2 separate regions of the Homo sapiens genome follow, and region 2 is linked to region 1. The links come from fine-mapping of genetic effects on gene expression. A gene starts in region 1. The other region holds a variant in brackets. All regions are shown on one strand. Distances are between the middles of the regions. Region 1 holds the start of SETD3 (SET domain containing 3, actin N3(tau)-histidine methyltransferase). Region 2 overlaps SETD3 (SET domain containing 3, actin N3(tau)-histidine methyltransferase).

Evidence for each region. PIP is the estimated chance that this variant, and not a neighbour inherited with it, causes the effect.
Region 2: its variant is fine-mapped to the expression of SETD3 in whole blood (INTERVAL, PIP above 0.99).

What each region holds. Positions count from the first base shown.
Region 1 is chr14:99,473,239-99,488,427 of GRCh38, forward strand. It overlaps SETD3 (SET domain containing 3, actin N3(tau)-histidine methyltransferase), which reads right to left and starts at 7,621. Exons shown (of 13, transcript NM_032233.3): 1 at 7,490-7,621. CCNK (cyclin K) reads left to right here and starts at 8,171. Exons shown (of 11, transcript NM_001099402.2): 1 at 8,171-8,241. RefSeq lists enhancers at 6,752-7,253, 8,062-8,431 and silencers at 7,102-7,301, 7,412-7,871.
Region 2 is chr14:99,414,255-99,429,443 of GRCh38, forward strand. The region is part of intron 6 of SETD3 (SET domain containing 3, actin N3(tau)-histidine methyltransferase); the gene reads right to left. Among named protein-coding and RNA genes, the nearest start is that of SETD3, 59 kb to the right of the region's middle. RefSeq lists enhancers at 9,932-10,795, 10,796-11,658. The variant C/T (reference allele first, on the strand shown) is at 8,570.

The sequences.
Region 1 (15,189 bases):
AAATGGGTCAGGAGAAACAAGAAAGCACATTTAGTGACCTTGGCTAATGTGGGCAGTGGGAGCGGAGGTGGGGTAAGGGGTGCTAAATACCTAACCCATTTTTACAAAGTATAGTTCACACATAATGAACTGATTTGGATGTAATTCACTTGCATTTTTTTTCAAACACTCTAAATGGAAAGGATATTTATTTGTGTATTTCTTGAGTTCCCTCGAAAATGCTGCTTTCAACTAAACAGAACTAGAATAAACATTTTTGATTACACTTATCTGGCAATTTATCCAGGAAACCTTAGCTCAAGCACAGCATCTGTTTTTCAATGTATCCTGCATTGACCCAACTTCACAGCTGGGTTGACTAAGGGAGGGAATGGTCCTAAGGATGGCTTCCTCCACCTCAGGCTCTCAGCTGTAAAGCACACTCGAGAGAGTGTGAGGGCCTAATCTTCATGTAGGAAGAATAGGAAATACTCTTTTCTCACTCTTACTAAAATACTTTGCCGGCCATCAGGATCAGATTACTACATTCAGAATTAAATACACAAATTACAGGATGACGAGTTAGGAAAATGAAGGCACTCCCAAACTGAAAAGGATTTAATTGTACAATGTTTCCTTTCCTACAGATACCGATAAAGTGCCATGGTACCGTGTTAGCTGAAACTTATACATATCAGAAACGTGTTCTGGCTTTGCACAGTAGCAGGGCCTAGTAGCAGCGCCATGCCATACCAACTCATACCAGTTTACACGGCTAACCGGCACCTATCATTCCAATCTTCTAATTAAAAGAGGAACTGGGCCAGGGGCAGTGGCTCACACCTGCAATCCCAGCACTTTGGGAGGCCAAGGCGGGTGGATCATTTGAGGTCAGGAGTTCAAGACCAACTTGGTCAACATGATGAGACCCCCGCCAGCTCTACTAAAAACACAAAAATTAGCCTGGTATGGTGGCACAGGCCTGTAATCCCAGCTACTTAGGAGGCTGATGTAGGAGAAATGTTTAAACCCAGGAGGTGGAGATTGCAGTGAGCTGAGATCCAGCCACTGTACTCCAGCCTGGGCGACAGAGTGAGACTCTGTTTCAAAAATAAATAAATAAATTAAATAAATAAAAGAACTGATGTGCCACAATTCAAAAGTACCAAGAAGTCAAGGCAAGCAGGCAGGGAAGAAGGTGGAATTAATTTCAACTCAGTAACTACTTAAGTACCAAGATGTATAAAGATCTATAAATTGCATGCAAATAAAATTTTAATTTGATCAAAATTTAATCTTGATACAGAACAATTTGGGCTGTCCCATGTAAGTATTATAACTTGAGATTTTAAAAATACAGTTGTTGGCCAGGCACAGTGGCTCATGCCTGTAATCCCAGCATTTTGGGAGGCCGAGGCGGACGGATCGCCTGAGGTCAGGAGTTCAAGACCAGCCTGGCCAACACAGTGAAACCCTGTCTCTACTAAAAATAGTCCCAGTTACTTGGGAAGCTGAGGTACAAGAATCACTTGAATCCAGGAGGCAAAGGTTGCAATGAGCCAAGATCGTGCCACTGCACTCCAGCCTGGGCCACAGAGCAAGACTGTGTCTCAAAAATAAATAAATAAATAAATAAGCACAGTTGTTGCTTTTCGCAATTTTTTTTTTTTGCTATTTTTCCACTAACACAATAATTTTAGAAATAACTAAACATTTCTGACTGACTTTTCATTACATAGTAGGTTTTAGTTTTAAACTGCCATTGAATGAAGTTGCAAATAAATTAACATGAGGTTCCTATTTAATGGAAGTTACCAAAAAAACCTTTTGTAAAGCAAAAAATCATTGGGTATCATGAATAATCATTTCCTATTATATCTTTCTAAAATAAAAAAGACAATGTTATGTGTGAAGAAACAGCTGTAATCCGTCAAGAAATTACCTTCAAACCACCCACATTCCTTAACATGAGGATTCTGGATTCTAAAACCAAGGAGCAACAGGATTAGAGGAGACCTCTGGGGTTATGTATAGTAGCTCTCAATCCCACGCGTGTTTAAGATCATGGTGCCGGATGTTATGGAGCAGTCACGATCAGTACTTCACCTGATCCAAGTCTGAGAAGGATATAAGACAGGCAGGACAGAGAGAGCGTGTTATTCCTGATTAACAAACACAGCCTAAGGCAGATTGCCAGTAAGAGAAAAAGGCAGCTCCAAAGCTTCGCCTTTAGGCGGCCAGCAGAGCTGCACGTTCACTTCCAAGGCAATCTCCTGCTTTGTGAGCCCCTCCAGTACGATATTGCAGAGAAGTTCACCATCCTCTCTGACCTGTCAGCTTTTGTGTCTCCCCAAAGTTTTGTCTTCTCCAGGCTTAATGTGCCCCTCATTACTACATATTTCTCAAAAGTGAGCAAAACCACTTAAGCATATTATACTTCAATGAACTGTTTTTTTTTTAAGTCAACAAAACCCTTCAGATGTGCTCTGAGATGGACTACCCACCTTCCTGGAACTCAAAGAAATTTGACTAATATTCCTAAGACTGCCCTAGCTTTTCTATGAGCCCAGTGAATTCATTCCCTCATTCCTGCACATTTCCTGAGAATCTAATCTCAAACACAAAGATGATGCAACATGGTCCCATAGCCTTTAGGACAAGACAGTAATCAACTAAAGCCTTTCGTGATCTTCAGCAAGATAAATGTGCTATATTCAACAACTGAGTTTTTGAACCTAAATGCAACTATTCATGCTGTCATGTTATTTCAGGATCATCCTTGCCATGTCCTGTGTCCTATGGAAGTTCTCCAATATGATCGTCCCCATCACAATCATGTCATTTGGGCATTTATTATATGATCAGGAATTGAGGTAAGCATTTTACACAATATAAGATAGGTATTAACAAGTCCCCTTCACAGATGAGAAAGCTGACGCTTACGGAGACTGATTAATTTATGCAAAATGATAGACTCAGTTTGTGTCAGAGCCTCACCAGCACACCTCAATGACAAATCTTACTGATAATAATATTTCATGAGTTCGGCTCAAAACCAACCCATTTATGAGAGCTCCAAAGGTTCACTGTTATCGCTAATATTCAAAATACTATTCCCTTGCACTGATAAAACATACGCATGTAAAGGTTTTATTTTTTGGCCTTTTAAAAGTATAGTTATTTTGCTGGCTTTGTCCAAATACATAGGAGGAGCTGCAGGTTAAATTTGGGACATGGGCAAAACTTCCAAAAGAGCTTCCATCCAGTCCACCATATCTGCAATGCCACATTTTTGTTGCAGGGAAAAACGCAGAACCATGAGGTGACCATGACATGCAGCGAAGCTAAATTTTTACAAACAACAAATCAAAAATGTTATTAGACACTAGTAAATATTTTATGGTAAAAGCAGCTTTTATAAGTATTTGTCAACACTAATCTTTACTTCCTCTCAAATATGTGTAATAGAAAACTGCTGATATTGAAAAGGCATGTCTATTTTCTGAGACTGAACATTGTAAACCATTTAGTCGGAAGACTTTCTTAGACCTGTTATGTCCTGATGAATTGTATTCTTAAAAAATGGAACGTGAAACTCAGGATCATAGACAGTAATAAACCTAAGTGTATATTTTATTAAGAGTTCTATGTATCATATATTTTTGTCAATTAAAAACTAAAAATAAAAAGTTCCGTGTAGACACTTGATTATCTACATTCTCTAGACAATTTTTTTTGTCCTTCTAAAAAACAGTGGAAACATTTCTTCCTGCTCTGTCCCTCTGCCCTCCCCTACTTCCCCATCCCAGTACTGAGGTTAGGCTTGCAAAAGGCTAATGATTCACTTTGGCTTAGTAATCAGTAGATCCCTTTCAAAATCTTAACTTCAAAGATAGATGTGTCTTTCATTGTCAACCAAGACTGTTTGGACTCACTAGTTCACTTCTACTTGGAAAGTACTTGATAGAAGAAAAAAAAAATTGCAAAGTCTTAACTTTGGTATTTGAATTTTATAATCATTTGGAATCAGTTTTCTTCCATTCAAATTTATCTCAGTCGAAACTGTTCAATATCTGTGTTTTTATCTCGTTTTTACAGTCTGTTTATATCCAAAACTTAGAGGAGACTCCCAAGTGGAAACGGGGTCAACACAGCTAATCTCTGGCTTGAGTTAAAAAGCAAGACTTCTTAATCTTGCAGATGCTAATTTTTTTTTCAAAAGACTATTAAGTAACTTTTTAAAAAGCCAAGTCTCAGCCCAGTGCGGTGGCTCACGCCTGTAATCCCAGCACTTTGGGAGGCTGAGGTGGGCGGATCATCTCAGGTCGGGAGTTCCAGACCAGCCTGACCAACATGGAGAAACCCTTTCTCTATTAAAAATACAAAATTAGCCAGGCGTGGTGGCGCATGCCTGTAATCCCAGCTGCTCAGAGGCTGAGGCAAGAGAATGAACCCAGGAAGCAGAGGTTGCGGTGAGCCGAGATCACGACATTGCACTCCAGCCTCGGCAACAAGAGCGAAACTCCATCTCAAAAAAAAAAAAAAAGCCAAGTCTCAACTTCTTTGTAATAGGAAAATATATTAATATATATTAATATTTTGATAGAAATTTTTTACCTTGAGAGTAAATATTATGTAAATTAATTCTATTTGCATATCAAATTAGTTAACCTCTCCAATTTATGAATAGAAAAATGAGATGATAAAAGGAAATCCAATGACAGAAAACCATTGTAAAGGCAACAGAAGTGAAAACTATAGAAAACTGAAAAAGCAAGACTCTTTATTCTAATACTCTCGACTGGTTAAATATGACCCAAAACAAACTGTTAGCCAGATAAACACTTCTATGACTATAGCAGGAGAGAAAAGATGCACGGCTAATCAAAAGATTTTTCACTGATAAAAAAAGGGCCCAAAAATAAGGGTAGGTAATTGAGAAAGCAAATATTATAACTGGCCACAAGCAACATCCAAAGTAACATAAGAATAAAGATAAGTTCACCGTTCTGTTAAAAACATTTAATGCCATAGCAATAAATGACTCCGAGTTCTCTTTGAGGGAACAAAGTCACCACTCCATTCCCAGGACTTCGGTCCAAGGGAAAGAAACACACTTGAAACTCTTCCTCTCCACCCTCAACAGAAGCACAAGGCACAGCAGCCAGGGAACAGGCAAACCAGTCTCTAAAGATAAATAACCTCTCAGAGAAGGATATTCATCCAACTACACAAAAGAAAGATACAGTATTACTAGTTACAGTTCTAAACCCTACTTCGGATTTGTGATAAGAAAAAAGACTCTATGTAATTAAAACATTGAAGAAAACTGGTACGCCTCAAACTACACTGACATCTAGTCACAAAGCATTCAGAGTAACCCTGACTTGGAGGTAGGATTTTTGCTCATATTTTTACTACAACTCTACACAGCACAAACTATGCACCTGGTTTTCATTGAATTCAATGATTGTCTACTAAATATTCACTCCAAGCAAGCCTCCGTCGCTGATGGTCATACCTTCCCCGGCGCCGTCATCCTGTCATTCTCCTCCAGGCAGGAGAGTACTGTGTTCCAAGGAGGCTGTTGTGACCGTTTATCAGAACTCTCAAAACCAAAACAGTTGTCCAGTGGTTAAGCTTTAAATAGGAAAAATATCACCTCCATATTTTTCTCATTATCCAGTGGCTTCTAAAGCAAAAGCTTAATTATCATTTAAAATGTGGCCTAAATGTCCACGGCACGGAAGAGCAGCGCAGCAGCCATCACTTTCTTACTGACAGTCACTGTGCTCTTACGAGAAGCTTTCGCTATAACCGTACATACAGACATAAGATGTTCTAATCTTCAAATCCAACACCACTCCAATTCCAGGAAAAAAAAGCACTGAGATGTTAGCACACTGGAGAAGCAACCATTTTACTCCTTCAGACTACAGTTCCATTTCAGATATTAACTTACAATCACTTGGAGGGCAGACAGGAAAGGGGTAGCAGAAGGCTAAAATCCAAGGTTGTCTGGGGTCCCAATAAAGAGGTTCTGTAGCTGTTTGAGAACTTGGCTTTGCAAACTACTTTCTTAGGCCGAAGAAAAACTCCTCGGTAAACTGTTGGAATTTCACCAAAGTATCAATCACGGCAGCCCTTGGGACTAATCCAGTACTGCTGGACTTTCACGCATGGTAGCCCGTATAAACACAGTACATACAGCAAGGTTCAAGCAAGTCTTGGCAAATTTTAACAGTGGAGAGGAAGACTGCTTTATTTTGCTATATTCTTGGGTTAAATGTATTCGCTTAAAATAATAAACACTTCTCCGAGATTATTACTGGTTAGTTCAGTTTTGAAATACTGGCAAGGTCATTTCAAGAAGAAAAACGGGAGAGGGAGAGGTATATTTTACATAAGATAAAATTCACACTTTTCAGTGTCCGGTTCTGAGTTCTGACAAACGCATTTATAGTGGCCTCATCAGCACCACAATCAGGCTACGAAGATGGGGTAACTCTTCGAGGATTCTTAAAAGCAAAATTGATTTGTCAGCATACTTTAAAAGTATTTTTGCTTTTGAAACATCACCTTATTTATTTAGAAAAGCAAAATAACACGGTCCGAGTGGTCCTAACCCGCGAATGCCTTTGCAACACTGAAATGCCCTCCTCCCAACACCGGCCGGGCAGGGGTGAGCCCCGCAGCCAGGGGCGCGCGTCACTGTCAGCTCCTTTTCCCAAGTGGAGACCGGGAAAAGACAAGAGTTGCATCGCCGGGCTGGAGCCACGAGGAGGAAGAGTTAACGCCGGAATGACAAACTCTAAAGCACCGAATTGCCTCTCCCTAGTAGGGCACTGCGCGTGTGGAGCACGGCCAGGGGCGCGTGGGAAGAAAGACGACCTATTTCCTACGTCCGTCTTCCTAACTGGACGGCGCGGGAGGAGGCGGGGGCTGGTCCCCGGGCACCCTGGTGGGCACCGAGAACTCGCAGAGAGGAACATAAAACCGCACAGCCTTCCCCGAGCAGCGGGGTGACGGGAGGAAGGAAGGAAATGGGAGCGCGACCCGGCCGCGCGCAGAGCCGAGCCGACTAGCGCGAGGGGCCCGGGCCCCACCCGAGAGCAGGCGCGAGGGCCGGGGACAGCGGGGCAAGCTCGGGGAGAGCGCTGCCTGCACCTGGCACCACCTCGAGACCGGGTGGCGCGGGGCCCGGGAGCGTGGGCGCCAGAGGGGACAGGGCAGCGGCGAGCGCGCGCCTCTCGCCCCGCAGGGCGCCCGGGCAGAGGCCGACCGGCGCCCTCCGACCCCGCCGGGCCCTCCTCGCCCTGGCCCCCGAGCGCACACCTGCCCCTTCAAGCCCCGGGGCCACAGCGGCCGGCGGGGACCCTGGCGGGGGCGCGGGCCGGACTTCGGCCGAGGGGCGCTGGCCAGGGCGAGGGACGGCCTCGCAGAGCTCGGAGACGCGGCGCGAGTTTCCCCCGCGGGCCGCGCGGGCGCAGAGACCGCCGCCAGCACTCACCTGCCCGCTTCCCCTAGCGCAGCGGGAACGACGTACTCCGGCCCGGACCCCGCCGTCCGCCTCAACCAACCCCCAGGCGGTGGCGGCGGTGGCGGCGGCGGCGGCCGGACGGGAGGGGCGGGACGGCAGCCTGAGACGGCCCCGCGACCGCGGCCCAACGCTTCTCCTCCCGCCCCGGACCCCGCCCCCGGGCCGCAGCCGCCGCCGTTCATTGGCCCACGCTTCGGACGCATGGGCGCGGCCCCGCCCCGCCACCCAGCCGGCGTTCCGTTCGGGGTCCTCCCCAGCCAGTGGGCTGGCAGCTCCCGGGGGCAAGAGCGGCCGGCTCAGCCGCCGCCAACCACGATGTCGCAACTGGCTGCGTTCGCCCCCGCCAGAGCTTTGATTGGACGAATCTCGACCCGGGCCCCGCCTACGCGCCCAAGTTCCGTTAGCAGGTTCGGTTGCTCCAGAATGCCTTTTCGCCCCGAGGGGCGGGACCGACGGGATGGGCCCTGTGGCTGGCTCCTCCCTCTGTAAGCAGCAGCCACTGACCCGCGGGGCGGGCGGGGAGGAGAGCGGCGGCTCGTTCCTCTTTTGAGAGCTCTGCTTTCTTCCCATTGGTTGACAGGCATCCTACTCTCTCCGCCCCTCCGGTCGCTTGGTGGCGTCTCAGGACGCAGCGTGATGACGTAGGTCCCCGACATTCCATATACAAGATGGCCGCAGTCGGCAAGGAGAGACGTCGCTGAGGGGCTTGCCTGAAGCGAGGGGTGAGTGACCCACCGACTGAGGGCAGCGCCGCCCACCTCCCGCGTATCTGGAGGTCGGAGTAGGTTATGGCCAACCGCCGCTATCCACTGGCGGAGTCTCTCTTTCCGGATTCTGCCTCCCTCCGCTAACCTCCGGTACACATTGAACTTTGCGGGCGACGCGGGGTTGTGGGGCGGGCGTGTAGAGAGGGTCTGAGGCGCCGGGGCGGGGCAGGGAGGCCGGACTCACCCTAGAACTGGTAGCGGCCCTCGCACTGGGGGGCAGTCAGAGTTGGGGAACTTTCTAGGGGTTGGGCAAAAGGGGCAGCGGTGTTAACCGCGCACAGTCTCACAGCCACAGACTTCTCATATCTCCCCGATTATTTCGCGGCGTATTAGTCCCAACCTTGGCTAGGCCTGAAACTTTTTGGAGGTTGTTCCATGTCTAGGGTACTCCGACTTTGGAGTTTTGGAGAGCCACGTAACGAGGGTGCGGCTAAGATGAGGAAAAGGCACTTCCGGGATTAGATTTCGTTCTTGCCCAGACATCGTCTTTACGGACCCGCTCCTGGTGGTTGATTTGGTTTGTTATGAGAGAAATTGTTCTTTAGAAAATTGGAGCGTAAGTCTAGAGGTTATGTGACAGCTCCTAAACGATTGTCTGCCCAAGATAGGCTCGGTAATGCTCCCTAAATTTAGACTGCCAGTTAAACGGAGCTTTCGCTAAGTCATCTGAGGTTAGGAACTATTTCTAAGAGCATTTCTTAAGGGTGGTCTTCTGTGTTTTTAAGAGAAACTTGGTGATGTTTGTGTATCTCGATCTAAATCGCTGTTTACAGATACCTAGCACAATGCCTTGCAGTTGTAGGTGCCCGCTAAAGGTTTGTATGAATGATGTTGCTAGAATGAAAGCGAGGAGCTTTCAGCGCCTAGAACACTGCCTGACGTTTAATAAGCCCTCTGTATTGCTGAATGAAAGAATGGATGGATGATGGTAGTGGTAGTAGTATTGATAGACATTTGGATTAAAGTGCCCTTAGGATGCTTACCTGTTAAATAATCTTGACTATGAATATAATAATTATCCAAGATTGTCTTATTCAGAGTGACCACCGCTGGTGTCTTTTAGGGTTTTTTTCCCTCTTTTATCTCATTTCGATTATATTGTGATGCATTATTCAAGCATATTAGTTGATTTCTGGGCAAATCCTGTTTAAATTTGTTCCATTTTGAAAATGTAGTTTGCACTAACAAGCAATAAAAACTATTCGAGTTGTTAATGAGGTTCTTAAATTTTAAATGCTGTTTCTAAAATTGAATGTCATAAAGAAAAATTGGTCATAGCTGTGGCCTATAAAATGGGCTAGTTCATTTCAGGACATTATATTTGAAAGCAGTGACTCTGCTGAGTGTCTGAAAGGGAGGACAGTGTTTTCTGCTTGTTTTCTTTAAAATTGGATAAGGACAAAAAAATCTAGAGGAATTAAATTCAAGGTAATTGAGGAGATTACAGAGTGATCATATTTTTAAGCTCAGGTAAATTGTATACCAGAGTATTTGCAGATGACTTTATAAAATCGTTATTCTTAGATTTTGAAAAATCCTAAAAGTACAGTTAATGATAGAAGACTAGAATCTGGTAAATGTCTGTTTTCACATAGAACCATTCGATGGCTCTTGGCTACTAGGAACCTATTAATAATCTGTTTTAGAATCTTGTTGGAAGAGCCAACAAGTTTATGAGTACTTGGGAAAGGAGAGCTGATTCCCTGAAGCCAGCAGAGCTTCAGTGAGAAAAGGCCAGGTGAGGCCAGAGGTGGTGGCTCACGCTTATAATACCAGTACTGTGGGAGGCCAAAGCTGGAGGATCACACAAGCTCAGGAGTTCAAGACCATCCTGGGCAACATAGTGAGACCTCACCACTACAAAAAAAAAATCAAAAAATTAGCCAGATGTGGAGGTGCATGCCTGTAGTAGCTACTTGGGAGACTGAGGCAGGAGGATCACTTGAGTCTGAGAGATCAAGGCTGCAGTGAGCCGTGATCGGGTGACTGCGCTCCAGCCTGGGCGACAAAGCAAGACCCTGTCTCAAGAAAAAGCCAGGTGACACAAATCATATTTCCTTTTGTTACAGTTTACTAGACTGGTGGTGATTGGGGATTGTTGGACATAAGTTCATTTAAGTTTATTTAGGACATAGTCTTCCAACAAGATTCTAATACTGTGTGTAGACACAAGAGTTAAATGTGCATTGGATAAGGTGTGGTTAGATGGATTTATATCCATGCAAATTACCAAACCCGAAATGTTGATTAATGAGTTGATGTAAGCCTGGGGAGATGTCTTTGGAGATATGCTACAGGACTCTGGTCTTGCCCTTACTCGGATTAACACTTTCTTAATACCAACTTTAAATAGATAAGCAGCGTGATTCTCAAGTTAATAAATGCACTCAAACCATGTAGTGATAATGAGCAAATTAGATGACACTCAGAAATCAAAGATTTCTTAAAGGCTGAAATATAATAATAGGCCAGAACTGGCCAGATATAAATTTACTAGGTGAGATTGTCTCAAAAAAAATAAAAAATAAATAAATTTACTTGGTGTGATTACATTTACAAAACCTGAGTTTTCCTGGCTTGACAAAAGTGGTTCTAGGATGTAACATTCCACTTAAACAGAAGAAAAGCAGTGTCTAGATTGAGGGAAGGCAGTATCTTGGTATAAAGTAAGACTAGTTGTGATGCTGCTTGCTAGCTGTGAATTAGTCAGGTTGTTTCGTGTCTCTGGCTCCATTTTCTCAGTGATAAATTGTGAGGATAAGAAAACTAGCTTGCAGACATGCTGCAACGCAGCAGACACACAATGGACATGTTACTGCATGTTAGTTACCACCCCCCTCCCATGTGCTATGCACATCATATCTGTTTTGATTCCTAATATTTAGGGAGGACTTGAAACACTAAAAAAAAAGAAAAATCATGATGAGAAAAATGGTTAGATTTGTTTACCCTAGAGAAGAGAATGTAAAAATTGCTTTTACCTGTTTGAAAGACAATCAATAGATAAGGGAAATGTATTTTCAAGGCTTAGTTTAAGGACCCTGGTAGAAGTTAAAGAGTCGCTAAAAGGTAGATTTCATTCATGCATTATTTTATGCCATCTGTGTAGCAGATCTAGGGGATGAACAGGACAGATAAAAATCAATATAGGAATACAGGAATTATGTGAACACCAGTTATTGATACCCAGCAATGCCATAGGCTGTTTTGTAAACTAATGAGGTTTCATTGATAAGTGGCCAAATATTACTAAGAGGGGATTTCGATATTGGGTGAGATAATTGAGTGGTGACATTTACTATTGTTTCCATAATTCTAAATGTTGAAAATATATTTAGTCTTTTATGATGTAAAATGATATTTATGAAGCACATTCCTGAAAGGTGCTGCTAAAATGCCTTGACAGGTTGCTTGTTTATGGATTTTCATTTTGCAGAGTTCATAAATCTCAGTCATTTTCAGAGGAATCACAAGCTACTAATGAGAAAACTTACAACTTTAGGGTCTTGTGAAAAAATAATTGAAGAGTAATAGGGAACAGGTTTATAGACCTGAGGCAAAAACTTTTTCAGGGAGTTCTACGATTTTGAGGACTGTCTCTATTCTGTTTATGTCCATAATATTTTCACTACATTTCATGAATTGTTTATATTCTGCCTTGGAACCTAAAGGGACCAGGAGTTTGGCCAGTTACAGAAGGTAAAACAATTGAATATACTTACGATTTATCCGCTTGTGGACCGAGGTTCTTTTCCATTCCAGTTTCATCCCTACTGGGGTATTCCTAACACTGTTCCCCGTTCTGCCCCTTTCCCCTCAACAGATATCTTGGCATTATACTTCCTAGAGAATATGGAGGTACTCTTGAGATTTTTTAGTTACTTCCTCCCCCTTAAAAGATTATTTAAAAATATCTTTCTCAAACTTTTCCTTCCATTCTCAGGGGAAGAAAGAGCTTTCTTTCTAAGGTTAACTTTCTTGCTGTGCTTTTTATTATCCCTTGACCAGTTAGCCTCCCTTGTTCTGACTCCTCTAGTGATTCCTTTTTGTTTTTACTGGCTGCAGACATTTTTCATTCTCCTTTATGCTGAAAAATATATAAAAACCAAAACAATAACAAAACCTACTCCCTACTATTCCCTGTTACTCTCTTTGAGAACAGATGCCTCAAAAGAATAACCTATTTCCAGCCAGGCACGGTGGCTTATGCCTGTAATCCCAGCTACTCAGGAGGCTGAGGCAGGAGAATCACTTGAACCCTGGAGGCGGGAGGTTGCAGTGAGCACCACTGCATTCCAGCCTGGATGACAGAGGGAGACTCTGTCTCAAAAAATTAAAAAATGAATAAAAAAGAATAACCTATTTCCTAGTCTGTTCATTCTTTACCACCCCTTGCAGTTTCTACACCTTCTGCCCTATTGCACTTCTAAAAATGTTATTTTATTTATATGTGTATATATGTATTTTCTTGAAATATAATCCTATACCGTACAAATTACCCATTTAAACTGTACAAATCAGTCGTTTTTAGTATTTGCAGAGTCATGAAACCATCACAATTTTCAGTGTCTCTAATAAACAACTAATCACCAATTAAAGTAAACTTTCCTTAGTTCCTTGTCCTTTAACTTTTCTTTAGCATTTGTCACTGTTGACTACCATCTCTGGTTTAAAGCTGACATCCCATGGTTTGTTTTGCAACAAAGGATGCAAATTTCCCTACTTCTTGGACCAGTCTTTTTCCCTTTCTCTAATTTGGTGATTCTTAGTCTGCAAGTGGGTAAATCATAAGTGCATTCAAGTCTGTTTTACCTTCCTGTCACTGGGCAAACGCTCGCCTTTGGTGATTCTTCCTACTTGGTACAAGTTCACAGAGTTCTGTACCCAGACCCCTTCCTTCTTCACTCTCCATCCCTCCATCCGTCAACATGACTTTATAGTTATCACCTCTGTGTAGATGAACCCCAAGTAGATATGTTCTGTAGAGACTTCAACTGGCCTATTTATCTGTCTGATAGATATTTCCACAAAAGGATCTTAAAGTTCTTCAAGCTTAGTATTTATAGAGCCAAATTCTTTTCCTCCCTCCTTATCAAAACCAGCTTTTTCTCTTGTCTTATCCATTTGTCTTTTTAGTATCACCCTCTGTGTCAGTCAAACTTGAAATCATCTTTTTCCATTCTTTGCCTCATGGCCAATTATGACACACACACCCCTTGTTCCAGCTGCCATTGTGTGGAGACAGGTGTATTAGGCATTACTTGAACTGCTACTATAATCTCCTAACTCTTCCTCTTTCTGCATACCTCTAAACAGCCCTTACCTCATTATGTTCTCTCCCCTTACATGCGTTATTATTTGTGGCACTTAAGATTCCCTGACAAATATTCATATATTTCTTTCTTATTGTCTCTCCCACTAGAATGTAAGCTTCCTGGGGCAAAGACCTTACTTATCTTGTGCCCTGCCATGCCATTAAGGCCTGGCTCATAGTAAATGCTCAGGAAATATTTAAATGAAAAAGTACATGGAAAACTGTTAGGCGTATGTATATTAAAGTAGCAATTCCCAACTGTGAATAAATTGCTAAGATGTGCTAAGATATTGATTCCCTCAGCCAACTGTCCAGTTGCCTTCTGTTCTATAAGAATATATGTACATGTTTAACACTTATTAATAATCAAACACCAGAAACATTTACATGCCCAAACAGTAGAATGTATAGATAAAGTGTGTTGCATTCATAGGATATAACTGTACTGTACAGCAGACTTTCTCAGCTTTGGCACTATTGACATGTTGGACCAGATAATTTCTTGTCATGGGGGATTGTTCTGTGCACTGAGGACATTCAGCAACATTCCTGGCCTCTACCCACACTAGATGCCAGTGGCAACCCCCCAGTTAGGAAAACCAGAAGTGTCTTCAGACATTGCCAAATGTCCCCTGGGGGGCAAAATTGTCCCAGGTTTAAAAACCACTGCTCTGCGGCAGTGAGAATGAACAAATACTGCTTTATGCAACAACAGGAATGAATCCCATGAACTTAATATTGAGCAGAAGAAACCAAATGTAAAAGTGGTACTGTGTCATCGCACAGTCCTTCAAAAACAGGCAAAACAAATTGATGGAAATAGAGGTCAGAATAGTTATCTTTGGGAGGATAGTCACTAGGAAAGAACGAAGAGAGCTTCTGGAATGTTGGTACTGTTCTCTTTCTCAACTGAATAGTGTTAACACAGGTGTGTTTACTTTGTGAAAAACAATCAGCCATACACTTATAATTAGTTCACTTTTCTTTTTGTATGCTATAATTCAAATCACAGTGTTGTAATTTATGAAAGCAGTACCCACACATAAGCAAGTATTCCTTGGCTATCGAGGGATTGATGAAGATAAGGAGTCCTCCTGGTCTCCTATTCAGTCTCATCTGACTTTTTCCCCAACTTTTTATTGTATGAAAGAATAGTGCAATGACAACTTATTTACCTGTGGACACATGTTCGTTTTTTGCCATGTTTACTGTGTGGTTGTGTTTTAGCTGAACCATTTGAAAGTAGGTTGCAGACATCATGACACTTTACCCAAAATACTTCAGCCTTCATCTGCTAAGAATAAAGTCATTCTCCTGTGTAATCACAATATCATTATTACCCCCAAAGAAAATTAACTGACAGTAATTCCCTCCCTAATACCCTCTAATATACAATTTATACTTAAATTTTTCCAAATTGTTTGAAATTTCTTTTTTTTAAAAAAAAAAAAAAAGCAGGATCTAATCAAGGTTCACACATTGCATTTTGTTGTAGCCCTCTTTAGCCTTTTTAAATCTAAGACAGTCTCTCAAAATGTTTTTTCATAACACTGTTTTGAAGAGACCGGGTCAGTTGTTGAGTAGAGTGT
Region 2 (15,189 bases), 59 kb before region 1:
GGATCTAAGCAGAAACGCAGAGCCGCCCAAGCCAGGTCCATCCTGGCCCCGCTCTGCACCTCATGCCATGATGTACCGCACAGGCCTTCTGAGAGGGTTCAAATCCCATGTCAACAAAAGGAAAAATTAAAGGCACTCTAATCGGTTGAAAGCTCTTTCATTTCTCTCCGACTTAAGTCATTTCATGGGAATCAACTTGTTCGCACATGAATCATATACACGGCAAATGCGGATCAAGCACGGAAAATCAGGAGAAGTGCAGGTCTATGAGACTATAAAATAACTTCACAAACACATAGGATAACGACAAAACAGATCAGCATATTTAAATTTTACTTCTTTCCTGGACAAAAGAACATTTGGTAAAAATACTAAAACTTCACTTTTATGAGAAAATTATATAGATTTCATATTCTCTCTTCACCACGTCCTCCACTTTAGGCCTTTCAAGCACTTAAAAACTTTGTCTCAATTAAGAAATTAAAAGCTGTAATAGTACAATTTGGATCTTCAGTTTCAATTACAGTCTGATAGATTGTAGTAAGTGATCAAATGAACAAATGGTTATTTCTGAGATACAAATGAAATCCTGCTGAAGCCGGGTCTCCGCACCACTTTTAATGCAGGAAGCTCCATGTAGCCTGCAGTTTTCACTCGTGACGCATTGGCATCACAAGTGCACTGTAATTTATCATCGCTCACTGTAATGTACTCGCTGGCACCCTACGCAGGACAGTAGGGGATGAGGTAAAAGTAGCTAAAACCGTAAATCAATTAGAAAACAAAAGCTTGTGCTCAGTGCGCAATTTTAGGCAAATTATGTATTACAAAAGGCTGCCAATTAAGTGTTAGTTTTGCTAAAGTTCCTTCACTTGCAATAAAATGAAACTTCGCATTACCCGATCAACTGGGAACTTTGCACATCCTGCCTGTTTTCATACTCTAGGAAGTGGGAAAGTGTTGTTTTTGTTATTTTTACGTATTTTAATTCATTTAAACTGTAGAATTAAACTGTAGAAAGTTAGTAAGTTCCAATGCTAAATCTCTAAGTCTAAAAATTTGGAGCCCCCACTAAGAAGTCTGACTTATTAAATGGCAGAAAAGATGACAATATTCAAAACTGGAATGCTAAATCTCAAAATGCTAAATCTAAAAATAACTTCAAGAGTCTTCTAACTCTCAAATTTCTTTAAGTAGCCTTGGACCCTACACAACTATCCAAACATGGGTGATCTCCATCAAGAGATGGAAAATTAACTCTTCAAAATGTTTCTCTTCCTGCTATTCATACACATTTCTTACCCAACATATAAGTCCATGCTCACAGTCCTGATGAAATCATTTAGGGAAAAAAAAAACACTCAAGAAAAAAATGTGTCACTGCATTCTTCAGATTTTGAAGATCATTTTGGCTGCATGGTTACATAATATTTGCAGAATCTGTTAGAAATAGTTCTTATCTTCTTAAGAAATAGGGTGTACACACTGTACATAAATCTGGTTAAAAAAAAGATTCTGCCACTGACACATGCACTTAACAGTGACACTAAAGCAAAATGTGACACTAACGGAGAAAGGAAATAACTCTCTCCACAGAGCTCTCATTACTGTGACACTACTGCCACCTTCTGGCAACTTGGGAGAGTAGATTACAGTCGCAGAGTTCTTGATATTTCCCAGGGCAAGGCCTTTAAAGCAACTTACTGTAAACCAAAAACTGGGCTTATCAAAAACAGCTACTACTTCAGCTTTACCCAACTAAGATTTGGTTTCTAAAAAGAAAAATCTCTGCTGTCTCTAAAAACTATTATATAATAGTTTTATAAGAATCTTGAGACATTCAAATATCAAAAATATTCATAATTAAAAAATATTTAATTTTGAAAATAAATGGTTTTACTTATTCTGAAGAATTGAACAAGGATAAGACAAATGTCTATGCCAAACAATTTTCATTTAAGCTCAATGTATTAAAAACAAACAAAAAAAAACCTTTTTTCCCTGTTGAAGACCAAGTTAAAACACATCTTCCAAAAATTATTAATCTGAAGTTACTGGAAAGTTCCTAAAATATCCTTAGATGAAAATCTTTAAGCTCATACGTTATACAAAAGATAACTGAGCGTTCCTCACTTAATGAAGCAAAGTGGTGCTTATAAAGGTTTTGTTGATTACAATAGCCTTTTCACTAGAAGACATTCCTAGCTTGCACTTTTAAAATAAAAATATACAATTAAAACAGAAAACGTACTCTCTGCAGCCAATTGGTTTTAGCTTCCAAACCAATTGTAACTGTAGATTCCAAGACACAGACACACATGGGATGGGTGAGGAGGGTCCCTGAGAAGCTTCTGCCTGCCACTGTCAGAAAGACGACAGTGAGAGGGCCTCTCAGGCATGGGGGGCCCAGCAGCAGCGGCAATGGGGTCTCCTGAAGCGCTACCTCCCCTCAGCCCACACCTCCCAGTAAATACAGGCGGAGAAACTAGCCACGGATTTTCTCCAGATTTTTTAAGTGATTAATATTTTTACTTTCTTGAGCACAATAAATATATGAAGATGGAGAAATGAACCATTGCCGTGGCTCATAATCAGACCTGAAGCACTACAGAGCCAGGCAACCCAGGGACGCACTCTTCCCCTTCCCTCTTCCAGCAAAAGGAGGCATTCCATGTTGAGACACAGTAATATTGTACCGAGTACAAAATAATCACTACGTTTGGGAAAGATTAATATCTAAAATTGTTTGTTCGGCTTCAATAAAAAAGAGCAATATTGCTAAATATGTAAGTATGACATTTTGAAGAATTTACCATATTGCATGGGTCTGGTAGCTATGCTTAAGGAAATTAAAAACCACTACAGTCAGCATATTTGATCCTTATTAAAGTTCCGTCTTGAACTATCACTCACATAAAACAAAAATAAACCAAGAAGAAATTTAAATAAAACCTATGGATTATAAGTGTTTGAAGATGAAAAAATGAACAATATTCCGGCTTTAAAAAATTGATTTAGCATGCAGCTTCTCTTTATAGTCCCTTGATAAAAATGAAATCTCCCTAACAAACACTTAATAAAACCTGTCGATATCTCTGGAAAGAAAAATGACACAGATGCATTAAGTATTAAATACCCTTGGAAAAAGTCACATATTCCATGAATTTTTGATGTACTATCTTGACATTAATGTAAAACCTTGATATTTATAATTGACAGATATTTAATAAAGTATAAAAGAAGATGGCTGCTGTGCAGCATGCAAATGTTCCAGGGTGATCAGAAATGAGAGATACAGACATGCACTTAAACTAAACAAACAGTTAATATGTGTTACACAAATCAGCTGCAGGCTTATTTTAAGCTCATACAACAAACCTTTGTGGAGAACCAAAATAAGCAGAATTCATTATTATGTGAATCCCTAATTCAGAAACATCTAGTACGTGAAACAGCTTTGAAACATTAACAGCTCTGCACAGGAACAAAATACATTTGCGTTAAGGTTTTTTTGTTTTTCATGTTTTTCAAACATTTAACAATAAGCATTTTTAAAATAAAAGTATTTCCATAAATACATGGAGAGGTGTTTCCTAAAACAATTCTCAAAAGGCCATATTTAACCTAAAGAATCAAAATGCTCTGAAGAAAAAAATATATTAGAACACACAAATGGCCTCTAAGACACAAACATTTCCCAAAATCAGATATTTACTTTTCTAAAGAATATTCTTCTCTACCCAGACTGATTTTTACTTAAAGAAAAACAAGTTGAACATATTAATCACCTTCAATGAGGCATTTAACTATACAAAAAGGAAAGTTGCTCATAGAAATGACTCTTCTAAATACTGTATGTTAAAGAATTTACATCCTGCCATAATGCAAAATTATTAATTTCAAATATATTTATGGAAGAATTCAGTGACTCTGCCCTGTTTGATGACTATAGTATCAGAAATGACAAAATATAATTTAGAAGTTGCACCTAGCTTGTTCTGATAAAAAAACCATAATGCCATGCAATTAAATTTTTCTGACTAAAATCCAGCTGGATCTTGTTTTGCTTCACTCCTTAAGCATACATTAAAAGAGATAGTCAGGGACTATCTCTTTTAATTAGTCAGGGACTAATTAGCCAGGAACAGACACACCTAACTCACGTGATGGTTTCATTTTCCTTCCTTCTGCAAGGATGAGATCAGTCACAAACTCTCACATTTGGCCTTTTAGGGTGGATGCAATTTTGCAAGTTTCAGAAATGTGACCCTATCTCACATAACCAAGAGATCTCTGGTCTGACAAATTCCTGGGCAGGACAGCCTGTGGCATCCTCCCTAGGCCCACTGTGGATCCATGGCCTCAGCAAATACATGTGCTTTGTAAAAATTGAGAAAGCAGAGGTGCAAAAGACAGCTCCATCGGCCCATCCTATAGGCCTATAGAGACCCCCTTCCTCTTCAAAGCAATACTGCACCAATCAGAGAGAGAATGGGAGCAGAGAGAGAGTAAGAAGATGGACATCCCCAGAAGGAAACAGAGTGAGGAGAAATGGGAGAAGATAAACAAAAAGAAGAAAGCTGAATATTGGAAAGATGGAAAAGATGGCAGGCAGGAGAAAAATTTACACTAAATACCTTGAGGTTTCCCCTTTCCACCCCCAAATGCAGGCTCATAAGCAGCAGCATGCAAGACAGCGAGTTTCTAGAAGGCTGATCAACCCGTCTTCTAAGTGGATATAATACAGTTGAACAGAATGACAAATTGCAAAGTATCTCTTGAATTGAAAATTTAGTTTTGATGACCATAAATCAGAATCAAAACATGGTTCACATGTTCAGCTCTTGAGGGAAAAAAATCAATTTTTAAGACTTTTATTTTTAAGCACAGATTATATCCAACTCTTCAGGGAATTTTTCATCATAAAGTTCTTTGAATTCACTTGATATGATGAAATAAAAATTTAAATACATCAATACACACTGAATTAAGATTTTCTGCCTTTCGCTTATATATAATTTTTCTATGACAAATGTGTATCACCTTATAATTTAAAAAACTTAAATTAAGAAAATGAAATTAGTGGAGAAATAACATTGTTCAATAAATTTATAAAATTATGATGGAAGAACTTTTTCTCCCATTGGAAGACAATGAATGTATAATCTACATCCAGTTAAATTTAATTAAAATTTGTTGAAACATGGCAAAAGATACGTCTGTTTAAAAACCTTTTTATGGCCGGGCGCGGTGGCTCACGCCTGTAATCCCAGCACTTTGGGAGGCCGAAGCGGGCGGATCACGAGGTCAGGAGATCGAGACCATCCCGGCTAAAACGGTGAAACCCCGTCTCTACTAAAAATACAAAAAATTAGCCGGGCGTAGTGGCGGGCGCCTGTAGTCCCAGCTACTTGGGAGGCTGAGGCAGGAGAATGGCGTGAACCCGGGAGGCGGAGCTTGCAGTGAGCCGAGATCCCGCCACTGCACTCCAGCCTGGGCGACAGAGCGAGACTCCGTCTCAAAAAAAAAAACAAAAAAAAAAACCTTTTTATTAGCTACCATTTGTATACTCTATGATGGGCAACCAATTATGAACCAAATTTAGTGATAATCAATCAATATTTTTGATCATCAATTACTCAACAAATATTTATTGACTTAGAAAAAAAGATGAAGATAGGTTAAGACTAGAAATTCATTCATTCAACACATACTTCATTTCCTGAGCACCTCCGAAGTGGAAGGCACTGTACATCACTGATATCATTAGGGGGTACTGCCTAGCAGTGAAGACAGATAAGTGACCAAAAAACCACAAAAGGATGGTAGGCAAGGTCATGCAAATCCCTCTTCTTCCGGGCCACCTTCTCCAATCTCCAGGTCCCTGTTGATCCTCCTGCCCTGTTCCTGCCTTTCCCACGCTGGCCTCAGTCTGCCCCTCACAACTGCATGCGCTGTGGCCATTTGATTAGCATCTCTTCCCCTCCAGTCCCCACAGGCAGGCTCAGCAAGGCAGGGACCATGTCTTCTTTGACCCCCTGTGAGTCCCCAGTGCCTTGCTCAGTGCCTCATTCAAAGAATTCCTCTTCTTTTTTAAAATTTTAAAATTTATTTTTAACTACACCTGCTGGAATGGGACAAAAAAATCTTCTTTCTCCAAGTGACAAGATACACTTCTACTCTTTTTCCTGGGACAGCGGAGGAAAGCTATGACTCCAAAGGTGCTGCTGAGAGGCTGCACCAGGGACTGGCAACCCCAGGGGAATCTGATCTCCACATTCCTCTTCAGAAAGCTCCAGCCCATGTGGGCACCCCTGCCACACCAAGGCAGTGACCATAGGCTTCAAAAAACACAGCTTTCCACATCCTTCTATCCTATGTTCCCTCTTATGAACAGAATATTCTTCTACCATCTAGGGGCCAGAGAATCTTCTCATTTTTTTCCCCAAATCTCTCTTTAAACACATTTGAGAAAGCTCTATTCTAAGAATCCAAAGAGAAACAACAACACAGATCAAGCCCACCAGTCCTCTGTACCAAATGGTCACCAAATCTCGCCCCACCCCCAACTCACCCCGAACATGTAGCACACACCCTTCGAAGAGGTGAGGCTGGGAACCTGCCAGGTCATCCAAGCATGCTGCCCAACCACTTGTGCTGCCATTTCCTCACTGGAAAAAGCCAGGCGAGGGCGGGGGGGGGGGGGGGGGGGGGGGGGGGGGTGGGAGGTGCAGACAAGCTACTGCTGTCTTCTTTAAAGACAGTAAATCTTTCGTTTCTTTGCCTTTTGACACTACCTGTCTCCCCACCCCCACCCCCAACATCTCAATCTGCTGACTGACTTAAGGACTCTAAACGATGACCAAGCCTCATTCTCTGGTCTGCAAAAAGTCAACTCCACCAATCGATCAATGCTTATTCAAAAGATATATATACTTCCAACTCCTCCATCTTATTAAAGAAACTAGAAATAAACAGAACGGTAAAAAGTTATTATTTTATAAGCAGGCTAGAGTGTATCAAAAAAGCAGGCTAGAATTATGTATTATCACCAGTTTCATAATATATTGTTTTAGTTTTAATTTCAGCAATTTTGGGTTTCAATAATTCAGGATAACTACGTTGGACTCTGTTTAAATGAGTCAATCTAGTATGATCAGTCATTTACAAGAGTAGTTGTAATCAGTAGTAGTAATCAGTCATTTACAAGAGAATGTTAGGACCACCATAATGAAACCAACTTCCTTTATAAGGTAACTGACATTCAGAATATGTAGATAAACTCCTGTCCTAGAAAGGTATGACCTCAGCTTGGTATATAAGAAAGCTCTCTGTCATCTCCATGAGAAACAGTGGGAGAGGGAGACAGACACTAGCAGTCATCATTTGCTGAGCGCTCTGTGCCGGGCACTCTATCGAGAACTCTATGTGCATATAATTTAATCATCTCAATTCCTATGAAATGGCACTTATTAGCCTCATTCTACAGATGAGGAAACTGAGGGAGACAGACATTAAAAGCGTACCCAAGTTTACCCAGTTAATAAATGATGAGGCTAGGCAACAATCCAGACAAGAGTTTTCTGGAGTTTACTTCAAGGCAGAGGATATCTAGTTGTCCTACTTTTATAAATAGTCTTATAAAGTCTAATAAAATCAATATATTTTTGCTTGGTGAAATTCCAGAAAAATGCTTGGTAAATACTGTTCTCATTTAAAATTCACCATAGAGGTATTATAAAAGGCATTATGAAGTTTAAAGGCAGGCAACATTAGCAAAACTAAGACAGTGAGTCTATTATTTCCCGCACCATCAGAAAGAATACCATGTTTAGCTGTTAAGTCTTCGGTCATAAAATCTCAGCCCTGGATGGTAACTTAGATTACCTGGTCTAATTCTGTTCACCATGCACATGAAGAAGTTTGGACCAGAAAACATATGTATCAAATACATGTATGAGAGAGGTCATATTTGGCATTTTCTTCACTAGAATGATGCCACATCGATGTCCCAACAATTTCCAATATTCCATCATCTGGAATTCTATCATTTTTCTGATAACTCTTAACAGCCTCAAAGACACCCCACAGCTTTGCCAATCATTAAACCACTATATCAAGTTATTATACTAGCATTATCTTTTTGGCTACTTTCAACTCTCCTTATTGTCATGTTGTTAGGGAAATGAACTTTGGTCCCTTAAACATTCTGCTTTTAAGCCTAAAGGAAGTTGAGTAGTCTATGAGGAGCTCATGAGGAATGAGCTCTAGGGGTGCACCACAGAATCTGAGAACCCTTCTCTGTAGACTGTTGGGGTTCTAACAAAGACAAGCCAAATCCTGATGTAATAAGTCAATCCCACTGATTTAGGAGGACTGCCACAATTGACTGAGCCTGAGACAGCCACATTCTCAAAGAGCACCATCTAAATCCACACATCACATACACTGCCTTGTCACCAGCTGCCAGGAGTTTACTTAGGTAAATCTCACTGATAACAAAATCTAAGGTAAAGGTCCCCACTGTACCATACCGGGCTGCTGGTCACAAAGGAGGGAAGTGGGGATG[C/T]AGGGAAGAAAACACAGCTCAAAAACCCTTCCCCCATCAAAGGCTCAGTGTGCGGCTCTGTGGAGCCCCGCGGCCCCCAAGGCGCCTGGGGACAGAGGGTTTGTGGACACCAGCAAGTCGCAGATGCACTGGCTCTGCTCCTCCACCTCAGGAAGCTCAGTTACTTGAGGGAAGCAGTTTCCAGTTATTCATATTCCCTCCTTTTCTCTATTCCCCACGCTCAAAGAGTGTTCAAAAGGTACCAATCAAAGAGAAAATCCGCAACACTGTCCCTGGGTTGTTCTAGATACAGCCAAATTACTGTTCTCACCTACAGCAGGGAGGTGTAAAGGCCTTTCAGAGGGAAGTAACAAAACTTCTTTGTTTATAATATACAGTCACTGAGAAAGAGCTATAGCTCTCAAAATCTAAGTAACCCTTTTTTGTATCCTCTGAGAAGGGAACCCTCAAACATATTACCCTGAAATTTGACAAATAAAATGAATATTTTAACATTACTAGTAAAATGTCCCATTAAAACGGCAACGAACTGAATTATAGGATTATAATTTATTAGAATCAAAATAGAATGGTATTATAGTAAGTCAAGACACTTGAATAACCAAACATAATTTAAAATCTCCATACCTTTGGGTAGAGTACCTGAGAGGTTTGTTATTAAGCAAAACTATTTCATATTATCTTCAGTTGATTTTTTTTAATTGCCTTTCTCATTTCATTAGGAGTCCAAAATAGATACCAGAAGGCTCTTAAGCACTGTTATGCAAAAAAAAAAAAAAAAAAAAAAAAAAGAGCAGGCACTAAGATGCCATCAGTACTTGCTATTTCTCCATTAGCATTAAGATATGTTAGAAAAAAAGTCATTCACAGTACTTCCATAAGTACTGTTAAAGGTACACTCTGTCTTAAACTGAACAGGGTAAAATCTGGAAGAACAAAGAAGCAAGGCCAAATCACACAGAGTGCACCCACCTGTACCTGGTTTCTCTTATGAGAACGGCCAAGGGATATCCAAGTAGCACAAGTTAGAAAATTCAAGTCTGATTACTTCCTTTTTCATAAAAATCATACTTTGCCTTATATTTTCTTCATTAAATGCTCTACTGATCAATAGTGGTAAAATGGATTTCACTCTCTTTTTTTTTTTTCCAGAGGAAATACTATCTCACATTGTTAAGAATGATACCATTTTGTTGGAGCATTCAATTTCTGGAAACAAATTTTCAATGAAAGAATAGTTTAATCAGTGCAGATCTTTTAAGCACTACCTAGAAAACAGGTAATTATTAAATTGTCCACCTGGAATAGAATGCAGGAAATCCAATAGACTGACTTAAGCTATCTTTTACTATAAGATGTTTGACTATAGTCATAGATGAGAAAAGACTTCAGAATTGGGTTTTGAAATCCAGGTCAGCTGACTCCCAACTCGGAGCCCAGAAACTTGGAGAGCTCTTACATTCGGGGGACAGGAATGGTAGGGTCAGAAAAGCCTGGAGATTCAGAAGAGCAGGAAGAACGAAGCAGGAACGTGGGGAGGATGAGGGGACTGGGCAGGGAAAGAAGCCAGACCCCAGGCCCTCCCAGAGGGCATCACACTTCAGGGCGGGGAGAGCCAGGCTGCTGGGGCTGGAAGAACTCTCAGTGTGGAATGTTCTTGATAAATGTTGTGATTAAAGGTGGAAGACAGACAGGACATCATCTCAAAGGCATGGGGGCTGTCTGTAAACCAAGGGGATAAAGCCAGGACAGAAAGAAAGAGTGAAAACACAGGGCCAATGTCGCTGAGCTCCTGACCTGAGTTCCTGACCAGGCCCCAGGGCTTCCCTTAGCTCTAAGGGGGGTCCCTTCCTCAGAGGGAGGGGAGGAGAGGAGGACATAAGAAACCCAGGTGGAGACAAAAGGAAAGGAAGTTCTTGTCACATGGTCTCAGTTTTCTCAGCAGTGCAGGGATGAGGGGAGCCCAGGAAGAGCTGAGACACAGAGACCCTGAATCTGTACCCAGGGAAGTGAGAGAGAAGCCGGTAAGACACAACTGTGCCTTTCTCCAGGCAGGAAGGAGACTCACCGGCCAGGCTGAGAAGGCTAGACTCACCTTGCACTAACTGTTATGGCACCTGGAAACTTCACAACACTCAGCACCCGGGAGCAGAAGCTGAGAAAGGGGATGGTGGGGAGGACACGGGGCTTCGGAGGGTGCCCTATAGAACAGGAGGGATGAGGCAGTCCAGAGGGAGGGCTGATGGACTAAATCACAGCAAACCAGTTTCACTTCTCCCTACTTCTTTTAAATTAAACTGCACCAGACCAAAAGAAACAGGACTATAAATAATAATGGTTAATTTATGCACTGGCACACAAAATAACACTCTAGCAGGTTTGCTGAACTAAGGAGTCCTACCCTCTACAAGATGGTTAGCCAACTATCTTGCCAAAGTCAGAGGTTCAAGGAGGAACTCCGCCATCCACGTGCACACCTTGGTATTTAACTCTCCTAGAGTAGGAGCCACAAGGGGTTAGGCGCATGCAAGAACACGAAAGGCCTGCCAGCGGGCACTGGGAGCTGCCGTGTGGCCCAGCAGAGCCAAGTGGTTAGAGCACCTGCCTGGCATCTAGCCCTGCAAAGCCCAGCGCCAGCTCTGAACCTGGAAGACCTGGAGCAAGTGCCTAAGGTTTCTGTGCTCAGTGGAACATTCTCAGCAAACAGTAAGCAGTCAGTAGGCGTCAGCTGTTATTAGTCTTTAGTTTCTGCCATAATCGCTTTGTACACGGCAGGTGCAGAAGGGATTATCTCGCTCTAAGCAAGGCACTGGCAGATGCCTAGAAATGGACCTCCATTTAAGTGTCAGAAAATAGCAATCCAGCTACCTCTTTTGCAAGAAACATAAGACAATGTGGAGTTTAGATTTAGCCTCCAATTACTCAGGCTGTAAAGATGGTACAGAAGAGAATCTCTTCTTAAGCACTTAATGAATCTACTGCAAAAAGAAAAAAATCTGTTTTCCCATCTGTACTTCCAGACATATATAATAAAGTGACATTTTCCAACATAGGTTTTTCCAGATCATTAGCTTTGTCAGTTAAGACTCTATGCTCAGCAAAATGACCATTATTTTTCCTATTTACCTTTTAATTTCTAAAAAAAACAAGCTGTTGTATTAACCTAGAGGTAATCTTAGATTATTAATCCCTAAAAAAAACTTGGTGTGGAAAACAGTTCAAACCCTCCTCCCCCAAACATACACATTTTCACAACTTTCCAGACTGGAATAATAATCCAATTATTGGAATAATCCGCCCCCCCATCCACTTAGCCAAATCCTAAGACAAGGTTTAAGATTCCTTTGCCTTCAAATCTACATATGACCTCCAGTGACCTCTAAATGTCTAACCCATGCAGTCTACAAAATACCACGTAGCACTCTGGTTTATGCCACGTGAAATTGCTCCTGAGTTGCTTCATGGATTTCATTCATTCATTCACTCATTCAACAAATATTCACAGCACCCACTCTGAGTGAAGTGGAAAAGCAGGGAGCAAGACAGACCTGGCTTCTGCCCTCACAGATCTTCCTGTCTGCTGGATGGTGGACACTGACAAATAGTCACAAACAGGAAGGAAGCAACAACAGGGAACAGGTGCTGGGGTGTGCAGAGCACGGAAAGCAGCAGAGCAGCTGAGGCCTGAATGTGGGGAGAGGGCGGAAGGGGACCCAGCAGAGAGAGTCCTTAGCTCTCCTGCTGGACCTGGCAAACAGAAGGTGCTGATAAATATGAACTGACTCCATATTCACCATTGCCACTTCCTATTTTCCCCAGAAGTCATAATCGTAGGTTGGAAGAAAAGTAAGAGACTGCCCATCTAGTAGTGATCACTGACCAACGTGTAGATTCCCTTTAAAATTTGCCCTTTATTTTTTAAGGTGTCCTCTCCCAGGGGGGAGCATATTTAAATTCACACCAGAACGGCCTGCCAAGCTCAGAAAAGCAAGTTCCCAGGTTCAGTTCCTAGGTTCAGGATCATCCCAGCCTCCAAAGTGTCCACTTACACCTCGCTCGGCCAACGAGGGCAGAGGCCTTGCCTTTCATATTTACCTACTCCCCACCTTCTGCCTCCCCCACACTGCATGCCCCACATGCTGCAATCAGTAACTCAGGTGGGGACGCAGGGAGAAGCAGGCGGTGATGTCAGGGTTTTACTTGGCAGGCAAGAGAGCGTGGGGGGCAGCTGGGGAGCATCCGGAGCGCCTCCTGTCATGTTCCTATGACGAGGCTGCTAACTTTCCCAAGTGTGGTCATTTTGCAAATTAACCTTTTAGCTCGAAAAATAAAGCTAGGTACTTCAAATTATTCACAGAAACTTAATGGTGCACATGATGCTGACAAGGAAAACATACCTTTGTATTACGAAACAGACAACTTCTCCATTTGACTGGAAGATGCCCACTGACTTTCAGTGAAAATACGTTACCCCATCATAAGGATAACCAAAATAACCACATCTTTTAGCCTTTAACTGCTTAAAATATATGCCCATGTTTTAAAAAACAGGACATAATGAAATAAATGTAATATTTACTGTGCTACTCTTGTGAGTAAGTGTGAAAACTGTAGGATGAACTATATCTGCAAAAAAGTAGGAAAAGGAACAGGTGTTAAACTTTCAAGAAAGATTTTGCTTAATCTCAAAAGTTATCAAAGTAAAATAGCTATTATTTTATAGAAAACGATAAAGGAGGCCAAGGCATAAAGTGGTATAATTTTATCCTTGATGTACTAATGCACATTTCTGCAGCTTCAGAGCCACTTTAATCTCATCTTAAAGCTTCCCAGCAAAGCTTCGTCCGTCAACTCCCCAAACCTGCACTGTGTGTCTGCTGCGTGCAAGGCATTGTGGGGGGACAATGAGCAAGATGAGTTCCCTGCTTTTAAGGAGCCAACGACTTTGGAGCAGGGAGCCCAGACAGGCAAACTGTGACGTGTCACACCAGGATACATGACACGTGCTGGAATTCAGAAAAGAAGCTGCAGTCACTGTCGGGAAGAGGGGGATCTGGCAATGACTCACAGAGGAGGTGGCATGCGAGTTAAGTCTCTAAAGATGGGCAGGATTTTCCATGTGGGAAGGGAGACATCCCAGACAGAGAGTACCGGAAATGGCAGAGGCAGGGAAAGGAGGGCTTGTTAAGGGAAGCTGAGCAGCTGGGGTTTGCAGAATCGATTGGCACACAGAGGGATGAAAAGGTGCAATGCCAGTGCAGTCCCAACACATGAGGCCCTGCAGAGGGTGGCACAGTGCCCACGGCAGGAGCATTAGAGTATTAGCTATGTGGCCCCAAGCAGTGCTACCCATCTGGTCTGTTACTTCACATGTAAAATGAAGACAATCCCTGCTACCAGAGTTTGCTGGCACTTGAGAGGTGTCAGTAAGTTAGTATCCATCCAGGAACAAGGACTTTGTAGACACTGAGCACCCCCTGGTCTTCAGCATTTAGGAAAAGTAATCTGCCAAAGGATGAATCAAAACAAGTGGTGGAGGGGTTGGGTGCAGTGGCTCACACCTGTAATCCTAGCATTTTGGGAGGCCCAGGAGGGCAGATCACTTGAGGTGAGGAATTCGAGATCAGCCTGGGCAGCAGGGCAAAACTCCATCACTACCAAAAAATACAAACATTAGCTAGGTGTGGTGGCACACACCTGTAGTCCCACCAACTCGGAAAGCTGAGGTGGGAGGATTGTTTGAGCCAAGGAGGTGGAGTTTGCAGTAAGCCGAGATCATGCCACTGCACTCAGCCTGGGTGACAGAGTAAGTCCCCGTCTCAAGAAAAAAGAAAGAAAAACAAAACAAGTGATGGAGGAAGTGAGAAAATGTGGGGAGGGGGTAGGTGAAGTTTGAGAATCTGATAAAATCTATGGGCCTGATGTGGCAAGGAACTGAGGGTGGCCTCTAGCAACTGCCAGCAAGAAACCCAGGCACTGATGAACTGAAGCCTGCTGCCAATCACAGGAGTGGGCATGGAAGGCACCCTTCCCCAGTCACACCTTCAGATGAGACCACACCCTAACTGCAGCTTTGAGAGAGACCCTGCAGCAGACAGCCCAACTAAGCCATGCCTGCCTTTCTGACCCACACAAACTGTGAGATAATAAATGTGTGTTTTAAGCCTCTAAGCAGCAAAGAAAAAAAAATTTTAATTATGAACTTCTGGGTGTACTTCTCAAAAAAATTCACACAAACATATGACTATTAGTCAAGATGGGCTGGAATCTGCCATAATACGGTGTCTCCAGGAGTCATTTCTCACTCACTGCATGCTCCCTGGGTGCTGCCTGTGCCTCTGCTCCATGGGATCTCCACTCCATGATCCAGGAACCCAGTAAATGTTAGTGCCCTTCTGCACTGAACTGTTCTGTTCACAGGAACCAAACATATTTGCAGGAAAAAAAGAAGAGGATTTAAAAGGATGAAGAAAAAAGAAAGACACAAGGGAGGGCAAGTAAGTGACAGAACACAGACACAGGAGGCATCACACCACCAAGGGCACAGGCTGGACAAGAAAAGAAAAGTGAAGAAAAGGAGCACTGGTGAGACGCAGGGGAAACTCTGAGATGGAATGGAA